Regions from separate parts of the Homo sapiens genome. Here region 2 is linked to region 1. Evidence: fine-mapped expression QTL. A gene starts in region 1. The other region holds a variant in brackets. All regions are shown on one strand. Distances are between the middles of the regions.

What was found.
Region 2: its variant is fine-mapped to the expression of STK17B in whole blood (INTERVAL, PIP above 0.99). The same link has a PIP of 0.9 or more in subcutaneous fat.

The regions. Positions count from the first base shown.
Region 1 is chr2:196,169,115-196,174,495 of GRCh38, reverse strand. It overlaps STK17B (serine/threonine kinase 17b), which reads left to right and starts at 2,918. Exons shown (of 8, transcript NM_004226.4): 1 at 2,918-3,163. LOC101927454 (a long non-coding RNA gene) reads right to left here and starts at 2,957. Exons shown (of 2, transcript XR_923737.2): 1 at 2,865-2,957; 2 at 1,648-2,591. RefSeq lists silencers at 2,623-2,852, 3,373-3,592.
Region 2 is chr2:196,207,253-196,212,633 of GRCh38, reverse strand. All of the region lies in intron 28 of HECW2 (HECT, C2 and WW domain containing E3 ubiquitin protein ligase 2), which reads left to right. Among named protein-coding and RNA genes, the nearest start is that of STK17B, 38 kb to the right of the region's middle. RefSeq lists an enhancer at 859-908. The variant G/C (reference allele first, on the strand shown) is at 2,649.

The DNA.
Region 1 (5,381 bases):
TTCTTCAGAAGGAGGGTGTGTCAGTGGCAAGAGTTTTGAGTTTGAGGCCTTCTGCTCTGTGCAAAACCCTCCTTTTCTGCATCTACAGGGAGTAAACATGGAATCGGTGAGAATCACTTTCCTTGATCATTATGTGGTCAGTATGCGGTGACTGACTTGATGTGACTGGGGAAGGTCCCTTCCCTGGACAGAATATGGTGAGTGTCGTGCCATTACCGGAGAGGATCACCTTCCCTGGCCACATGTGGTAAGCAGTGACTGGGAACGATCATCGCTCCCAGTCAGTGTGTGATTACTAACCTGGAGTGATCCAGGAGGACCACTGTATTTGTTTGCTTGGACTGCCATAACAAATACCACAGAGCGGACAGCTTAAACAACAGACAGTTCTGGAGGCTAGAGGCTGTTGATCAAGATATCAGCAGGTCTTGTTTCTTCTGAAACCTCTCTGCTTGCTTTGCAAATGGCCACCTTCTTGTTATGTCCTCACAGGGTGGTCCCTTAGTCAGTGTTGTATGTGTCCTAATTTCTTCTTATCAGGACACCAGTCATCTTGGATCAGGGGCCACTCATATTATCTCATTTTACCTTAATTACCTCTTTAAAGGCCCTATCTCCACATACGGTCATACTCTGAGTTCCTGAGGGTTAGAATTTCAACGTATGAACTGGAAAAGAACACAACTGAGCCCATAACAACCGCCATCCCTGGTCGGAATGTGTCATTCAAGGATGGTCAACTTAATGAACTGTGTGGTCAGAAGCAATGACCACAGAATGACCATCAGGTCACCTGGAGATTTCCTACTCAAGGGAATGAGAGCAGGAACATATATCTTTGACACGGTGATGAATGAGTTTAGGTAAATGAGGTGGATGGAGGAATGTATTGACTTCTGAATTTTCCTGCAAGGCCACAGATGTACTGCCTCCTCCTCAGCACCAGGAATTCCTTGTTACTTGAACCACAGTGCCTGAGACCAAGTAAGTGTAGTTGAATGTCCTTGGGATAGTGTGGTAAGTCCTAGTTAACAAATCTGACATCAGGCACAAGGGTTAACAATCTATTTAGGGTCATAAAAGAAACACAAACTATCAGCCCTGCACCAAAGAACATAAGGCAGAGGTGATCAGGCTGGGAACAGAAAGTAGGAATCAGCAGAGTTCTGATTCCTGAAGAGGGTAACCTTCTTAAAGTCAGAAACTGATGAACAGGTATGGATGAGGAGGATGGTGATAAGCTGGAGCTAAGGCAGAAGCAGGAAAATGCAAGACATGACAATATCCCTAGGAGGCTGGCTGGTTACAGCAGAGGTATTGTGACCAAGAGGACTGGCTTACAGTGGTGCCAGAGAGAGAAAAGTCTGTGTCTAGGTGTGAAGTGATCTGGGACTGGATTAGTGACGGGGAGTATGGGGTGAGTGTGAGAAGATTGCTAAAAGCTGGCAATTGATGAAATGTTGAAATTAAGGAGGTCCAAAGTTAAACACACAACCCCAAAACCACCATAATGATGTAATCCTGTGACCCCCAAGAGGTTACTAGTTTTGGTACTGGTGCTGAGACCTCTGGAATGCAACACCTATGCTCATGAAAGAAAAGATGGGAACAGTCTCATTGCTTACGGATTCTTATACCCCAGAAAAGTTAATTCCAGTGTGTGGCATTTTATTTTCATCCTAACTTTAGGCTTCTCTAGTCAGCCCAATTGTTAGCAACAAGAAATTAGATAGATGGAAGCAATATTCTCCATTTGACAAGGTTTAGGGGCAAGACATTATTAACCTGGGAGGAGGAGTTAACCTAAGTAACAACAAACAGACTTCATAAAAGGGCTGTGATGCATTCTATACCTTTATCTTGGGGAAAATGCAGTAGGAAAGGGAAACAGCTAGCTTCACAGGAATTTGCTTGGCTTACTGGGATAGAACAAGAAAACCTGTCCTTTATATGCTAACTGAACATTAAGTCTTTTGAAAGCAAGAGGACGACTCCACTCCCAGTATCCTTTCCCACGGAAGGGTTTTCTGCAATTATCGTAAATGTCCTCTGAAAGCAATCCTAGATTACATAACTAATCCCATATATGTATGAGTATGTGTGTATCCTATACATATAAACTAGGATTATATATCTATGTAAAACATTTGTGTCTTGCACAGAACTTTGAAAATTTCCACTGTCTTCAAAGGATAACAGATCTTGAGTAGGTTGCTGAGGGCTTTCATCTTTTTCCTTAGCACTATAAATGCAAAATCGGCTATTCAGCCTATTGGGACCCTCCCTACACTGCCTTCAGTCAGTGCCTCAGAAGGGACACCATTCGCGACAGCGGACGTTAGCAGTGGGGTCTAGGTTCCATAAATCCCCAACTGATGTTGACACTCCGAGGAACCTCTGCCAAGTTGTAGCAAACTGGGTTCTCCACTTACAGGGTACGTTCCGGTCCTAAGGAAGACTCTCAAGAAGAGTCAGAAAATAGGTCTTTGGTAGGCACTGAAGTTTGGTAACTAGTCGCAGGCAGCTGGGACGAATTTTGCGGCTTCCTTCTCCCCGGTCTCCGGATATTCACACCTCTCGAACTGACCTCTCTGAAGGTGGGAAGGAGTACACAGAGCAGTAGTTCCAGCCCCGCGCGCCCCCTCTGCAGCGCCGCCCCCTCCGCCCCTCCCTCGCGGCAGCCCGAGTGCGCCCCACCTGCGCCGCCACGCCGCCGCGCCTCCCCGCCCCGCCTCGGGCCAGCCAGGCGCCGCACCCTCTCACCGCCGGGCCCCGCCCCGCACACGCGCCCCCGGCCGGTGCCCCGCCCCTCCCGTCACGTGACAGACCCACCCTCCGCACCCGTTCCGATTGGCTCTCCCGACCTAGGGGGAGGGATCTGGCGAACGGCGATGCCCCAGACGCGGCTGCAGTTTTCAAACCGCGACTGCAAGCTTCGGTAGTCCTCTCCGCTGCTGTCGCCAGGAGTCACTTCACGAGAAGCCAGGTCACAACCGTCGGCCCTTGTCTGGAAAAGTAAAAGTGGATCCTGCCACGTTCGGAGCTCCCTGGCGCCTCGCCCGGCTGGAGCTAGAGAACTCGTCCTGTGGCGGCCCCCGGCGTGGGGCGGGACAGCGGCCCCCTGGAGGGGGCAGTCCCGGGAGAACCTGCGGCGGCCGGAGCGGTTAGTGTCCTGCGGGATTGGCGGGTTGGCTCGGGGCTGCGATGGAACCAGCCGCCTCGGTACAGAGACCTCATACGTGAGGAAGGAGGACCCGAGGAGGGTTTAGGCGGTACGGTCCGGCTGAGAGGGGCTTGGACTCCGCCGCCCCTGAGGTGGCTGATTGCTGCTGGCGCCTCTCCGCTTTGCGGCTGGAGTCCGGGTTCCCTGGGGCTCCGCGCGGGGGGCGGCCGGCGGTCCTCCCACCACCCTCCTCAGCCCGGGGCGCGTGTCTGTGTCTGTGCGTGTCCGTGTGTCCCCGTGCGCCCTCCACCCGGCCGGCCCCGGCTCTCCCCAGGTCGCGCCAGGCAGGGCCCCCTTCGCGGCGGGCCCGCGCGGGTCCCTTCCACAGCAAGGCCACGCGGTCCCCCTAGCCTCTCCCGAGTCCCAGCTGCGGCGTGGGCGCGTTCCCATCGGGACTCGTGGACGCGTCCTGCTCCCAGCTGCCTTTCGTCTAGAGAAAGTTCGTGTTCATCTTGTGGGACGTTTTCAGTTACTGCTTGGGAACAGTGTTTTAAAACCAGCGAGAGATCAAGACGGGCTACAGCTGTTTCCGTGATTTTCAGCGATCTGATTTTTGCTTTGATGCCTTGTGACCCACTTAGTGTGCACGACTCATCCTCAAACTATACCACTACTGGATGCCAACGATTTTTGACATTTACCCAGGCTCTTTGTTTTATTGTAGGGAAAAGCGTTTCATTTGAATTTCCTCCGAGGGAGAAGTAGAGACAAAGTTGAAAGAGGCTTTATAGCAGCTGGTAGCTGGCATTAGTTTCTGTCTGGACTAGAGGCACTCTGACATCAATTTGGAAATTGGAATTAAGAAAATACGTTTTTAAAATCGTAATACTTATCAGATTTCACTAATATTTAAACACATGAGGACTGTGTATCACATTCACCGATTGTTTTGTCGACGTAATGTTTACATCTGTGGTGCTAATGATAAGCAGAACCTTGCCAGGGACGTTTGACGTGGTGTGGCCACTTTACGTTTTCAAGTCTATGAGAATGTCTGCGCGGAGACAGCATAGCTCTGTAGAAATGAGTGGCAGCGTATGTAACCTGGCATTTTGAACCCAGGAGCACAATTTTATTAAAGGAAAATAAACCTACTTTCTCATTGATAACACTGTTTTTTAGTTTTATGGTGAACTGTTCGGAAGTAATTTTCAACAAGTGCTTATTTTATAAATATTAGACCGTGTACCCCTAGGATTGTGTATTTTTTAAGAAAACTGGTCCATAGAAGCGGTGCAAAAGTTTTAAACTCATCTGCCTCGGATCCTCCTCCTCTGAGCAGATGCTCAATTAAACTTTTTCTAGTATCTTAATAATTGGAGGTATTAATAGATGTTTTATTTTTGAGATACATATTGTACATTTTAGATCTTTTTTTTTTTCTAAAGTAGGGATCCAAAATTGAGGTGAAATATATTTGCTTACATGGCAAGACTTTTTAAAAGTAGAATTTCTGTAATTGAAGACCATCCTTTTTTGTGTGTGAATAGAATGGTTGCGGTTTCTCTTGGGATCATTGATTAGTGAATTACGATTTGGTTAAGATAGAATGCGTTTTTAGGAAGTTGGAGGTTTGACTAATCGCTGTGTTAGCATATGAGTAACAAATTTGAAGAAGATACAAGCATTTTTATGGCTGACGTTTCTAATCAGATAATTTTATTTTTAAGCTTGCTCTGTTTTACTTTTGTTAAGTGAACATTTTAACATGTTTTAAAGCTCTTTGATAATTATAAGGGAGAATTTCCTTATGAAAATATTTTTGCTTTAATTTTAGAGACACAAGAAGTCAAGGAATTCAGTTAATAACACTTTCACTTAATCGTTAAATTGCCTTAAAATTGCATGCATAGTATATTGTAATTCACATTTTCTGTATGTAAGATTGGCAGTTAAGAATAGTATTCTGGCCGGGCGCAGTGGCTCAAGCCTGTAATCCCAGCACTTTGGGAGGCCGAGGCGGGCGGATCATAAGGTCAGGCGTTCGAGACCAATATGGTGAAACCCCGTGTCTACTAAAAATACAAAAATTAGCCGGGCATTGTGGCGCGCGCCTGTAGTCCCAGCTACTCGGGAGGCTGAGGCAGAAGAGTTGCTTGACCCGGAAGGCCGAGGTTGCAGTGAGCCGAGATCACGCCACTGCACTCCAGCCTGGGCA
Region 2 (5,381 bases), 38 kb before region 1:
AATAGCAAAGACACAGAATCAACCTAAATGCCCATCAATGGTAGACTGGATAAAGAAAATATGGTACATATATACCATGGAATACTATGCAGCCATAAAAAAGAATGAGATCATGTTCTTTGTAGGAACCTGGATGGAGCTGGAGGCCATTATCCTTAGCAAACTAACACAGGAACAGAAAACCAAATACTACATCTTCTCACAAGCGGGAGCTAAATGATGAGAACACAAGGACACATAGAGGGGAATAACACTCACTGGGGCCTAATGGAGGGTGGAGGGTCAGAGGAGGGAAAGGATCAGGAAAAATAACTAATGGGTACTAGGCTTAATACCTGAGTGACAAAATAATCTGTAAAACAAACCCCCAGTGACACAGGTTTACCTCTATAACAAACTTGCACAAGTACCCCTGAACTTAAAATTAAAAAAAAAATTACATTGCACACATGGGAGAAAAATGGATAGATGTCCTTCTTACTTAAAAAATGAATCCTGGCTGGGCATGGTGGCTCACACCTGTAATCCCAGCACTTTGGGAGGCCAAGGCGGACGGATTGCCTGAGGTCAGGAGTTTGAGACCAGCCTGGCTAACATGGTGAAACCCTGTCTCTACTAAAAATACAAAAATTACCTGGGCGTGGTGGCATACGCCTATAGTCCCAGCTACTCGGGAGGCAGGAGAATCGCTTGAACCCAGGAGGCAGAGGTTGCAGTGAGCCGAGATGGCAATGCTGCACTCCAGCCTGGGCGACAGAGCAAGACTCTGTCTCAAAAAGAAAAAAAAAGAATCCTCTAAGAAGTCTGGCATGGTCTTGTGTCGGGCATGGGAGTTTCTGCCCTGGAGGGTTGGAGGGGCTGTAAAGGATGAGGGCAGTCCTGGCAACCGGAGCAATGAGGGAGAGAATCTTAGTCTTTCTAGACAAGGATGATGGAGGGCCTTTCAATTTTCAAGCAGGCAAATGTGAGTCTCATTCTTTTCTCAGATTTCCTAGTCTCACTTTGCGGTAGCAGTGGATAGCGCTGCTCACAGTATGAGTCAAGGAGTATATAAAAGTATATATGGTTGTCTCTGCAGCCAGTGCAAGTTGAATCCATGGCTCTTTTTTCCTCTTGTGGTTATGAAGTGACTAGAGACCCAGATGATAAATAAGGATGTAGACAGAAGGGTGTCTCCATGGAGACCTACAGCCTGAGCACATGACTGCACTTCCTCTGCTTCGCGGTCGGTGGTTAGCTCTGTATTTTGCATTTCTGTGGAAGACTTCATACCCCTGGTGCTCTGATGGACTTTATGAAAAGAGAGTACATTCACTTTGTGGCAATTGCTCTCAAACAGTCCAAAAAATGCGCTGCTAAGATGCCAGCCTGAAAACTGCAGAGCAGTCCTGTCTCCCACCATGGTGTGAGTTTCTGTGTTCATCCCCCAGGTTCTTGCCAAGTTGGGTGATGGGACGGAGGACCTGAGAGCTGCAATCGTCATGGGGGTGTGTTGGTTATTGCCAAAGGGAAAAGCGTTAATTTTTGAAAATGGCTGTGTCTGGAGATTATTATGAATGAAATGCTAACTGAAATTAAGAAATAAATTGTAAGAGTTAATTATGAAATAGATGTCTTATGGAGACAGTTAATCTAATGGAATAGAACTTTAAAAGATAAAATTATTTTTTAAAAACATAACAACTTTTTGTTTTTAAAATTCTGCTTTTTGGCAGAGTGCAGTGGCTCACACCTGAAATCCCAGCACTTTGGGAGTCCAAGGCAGGCAGATCACTTGAGGTCAGGAGTTTGAGACCACCCTGGCCAATATGGTGAAACCCCCATCTCTACTTAAAAAAAAAAAAATACAAAAATTAGCCAGGCATGGTGGTGTGCACCTGTAATCCCAGCTACTCGGGAGGCTGAGGCAGAAGAATCACTTGAACCCAGGAGGTGGAGGTTGCAGTGAGCCAAGATCATGCCACTGCACTCCAGCCTGGGTGACAGAGTGAGACTCCATCTCAAAAGAAAAAAAAATCTGCTTTTTATTCTAATTTATAAAAAGAAAATTTTACAAAAAATTGCTAAGAAATATATGTATATATTAAATATATATTAAAATACCTACATATGTATCAATCCAATGTCCACCCAATGTCCACTACTAGCTGGTCATGGTGGTGCATGCTTGGAGTCCCAGGTACTTGGGAGGCTAAGGCTTGAGCATGGGAGTTTGAGTCAAACCTGAGCAACATAGAGAGATACCATTTCTGAAGGAAAAAAAAGTCAATTACTAAGATAAGCTCTGTTAACATGTTAGAGTATGTGATTTCACTCATTTCTTCAGGTACACACAGGCACACAGACACACACATACACACACACACACATTTTAAAACAACATTCCGTTTATCACATGGAACATCTTTCCATGTCATTAAATATTGCTCTGTAATGTTATCAATAATTCAGTTTTCCCTCCTCCATTATAGGGAGCATTGTCTACTGTCAAAGTGAATTATCAGCCAGTATACCGGAAAATAACCAAGTCCTGAAATACAATGTCACTTTCCTCAATTAAAAGAAAAACCAGGCTGGGCACAGTGGCTCACGCCTGTAATCCCAGCACTTTGGGAGGCCAAGGTGGGCAGATCACGAGGTCAGGAGAT[G/C]GAGACCATCCTGGCTAACATGGTGAAACCCCGTCTCTACTAAAAATACAAAAAGTTGGCCGGGCGTGGTGGTGGGCGCCTGTAGCCCCATCTACTCGGGAGGCAGAGGCAGGAGAATGGCGGGAGCCCGGGAGGCGGAGCTTGCAGTGAGCCGAGATCGCACCACTGCGCTCCAGCCTGGGCGACAGAGCCAGACTCCGTCTCAAAAAAAAAAAAAAAAGAAAGAAAGAAAGAAAAACCATCAGAACAAGAGATGAGTACTAGAAGGACCCTTTGGGGCCATCTCCTTTCTATATTTGCCCTGAGGTGTCCCTCGTTGGTCTTCCTAATTCCCTACCGCCTGCTGATGAGCTGATGTGGCTTTTCGTGTGGGAGAGAATTGACAGGAGATTCTCATACAGTGGTCTGCTCTGTAGTTGAACCTCAGGTCCAAGACTCTCTTCAACTCCTTTCCCCTCTGCCCTCTCACTCAGTTCTATATAACTGTATTTTAAATTTTCACTTTATTCTGCCATTGAATCTGCATGTACTAACAAAAACATGCCAGAGTTAACCCATCACATCACCATATTAAAGATTCTTAAATGTCATATACCTTTTGGATTGGTCTTTACTTTGGGAGGTGGGTAAATTTATCATAAAAACAGATTGTATTAAAAAAAGGGACTCTTCTGTAATTAATGTAAAACGTCAAGCTATTGAAAGAATTTGTGACTTTAATGGAATGAGATAATCATTCCACTTGCATTCCATCAGCATTGTTGCTGCTGACAACAGAGGACAGGATAGTCCAAGTCAAATCTACTAAAGGTCCTTGAGAGCTATTTCACAAGTCAGATTTTAAAGTGTCTATTTGTGAGTGACAGACATTGCAACAGTTAAAGAATGCTTACCCACTTTTCCTTGGCCTCAAGAGCAAAAACCAGTTTGGGCTCATTTCTTTCCACCAGCCTAGTCCATGACACCATCCCCCCTCACCTGGACTACTGCAGTAGACTGCTGGCTAAATCCCCTGCTTCTCCTGCATCCCACCATTCATTCATTCTGCACTCAACAACCACTGGGATCTGCAAACATCTCAAGGTCACCTCCCTCCCTTGCCTACACCCTCTGGTGGCTTAGAATAAAATCCAGACTCCTTCCCAAGGACTTCCTGTGGGGCCCTGGTCTGCCTCCTCCTGCAACCTCAACATGTACCCTCTCCCCCAACCCATGACACCTACCAGCCTCCTTCTGTGTATTCCTCAAATATGCCAAACTCAATTATGCTTCAAGGCTCAGGGAATTGCTGCCTATAACACTTATCTGCTGGTCCTTCATGCCTGGCTCTTTCTTGTCCCCAAGACTCGGGTTAGAGGTGATCTCCTGAGAAAGGCCCACCAGGCTTCTGTCCTTAGTGCACCTGTCACTCTTTCACCCCTTACTTCCTTCACTAGGCTTGACCCAATTCAGTCATCATGTTCAGTTATTGGTTTACTTGTTGATTATCTGTCTCCTCCTCTGGAGTATAATCCTGTGAGAACAAGTACCTTATCTGAATTAAACATGGCTTTGCTCCTAGCAGTGAGCCCAGTGCTTAGCACATGTACTCCATAAATATTGTTTTTAGTGAATTTGAAATCTTTAGGGATAACTTTGGACCACTCCAGACAAGAAATTCCAAAATCATAATCCAGACTTTCATATCTCTGTATCCATATCTGAAAAGTTGGGATAGAAATTAGCATTTATATTACAAAGTTGTTTTGAAGATTAAATGAGATAACATGCAAAGTGCTTAGAATAAGGCCTAAAACATCATTCAATAAATTTAGCCATTCTTACTATTCTTCCTAATATCTAGCCTTCAGGGCTGGCCGGATACTTTATAGTCTTTAGGTGTGTGAGAAATGTGCCATATTCACCCAGCGTGTTTGTATTTTGTTTGGACTTACAGGGGTTTCCATTCCTGGAACTGTCCTTACTGGACTTTGTTCTGTTTGGTTTAAATTCTTACATTTGAAAAGTATGTACCCTCTTTATCTCTCCCCAGAGGCATTCACAAGTGAAGAAGGTACCTGCTCAGAATGCATAGTTTGAAGAGTTTCTTCTGCTAGTTACCCCAGATACAGGAATTCCCCCCTATGGGAATATTCCACTTTGTATTTACAGATCCAAGTGCACCTTAACCAAAGTGACCTAATGAGACTTTGGAATAAGACATTAATTAGTGAATAGATTAATTCCCCTCACCCGTCTATAGATACTCCTCATGGCTTTACTAAGTGCCGAACCTTGTGGGAGATATACGTTGACCTTAAAACACAGGGAGAGAAGCAATGGATATTTACATGAACAGATAACCAACATCATTGGTCCCAAAATGGAACATGACCAATGAGTAGTTGGAATAGCAAGCACCATAGAATTTCTTTCCATGAATTCACCTTTACCGAACACCTGGTGAAGGTCAGGGCATTGTGCTCTGCTGCCATAAGTTACACACATATTTGTGCCCTACTCTTAATAGGAATTTCTGCTCTAAACCTCATGGCCTAAGAAGGTATTCATGAGGATATTAGATAAATTATGAATATTTTAAAAATTCTAACAAGTTTTACCATTAGTTGTGTTAATAAAGCTACCCAGGCTAACAAAACTATAACTGGATTCCTTTAATGGAATTCGATCACTCTATTTAATTGGTAACTTTGGATTTCTCATGCTGATTTCACGCCCTTGAATTCATCATCT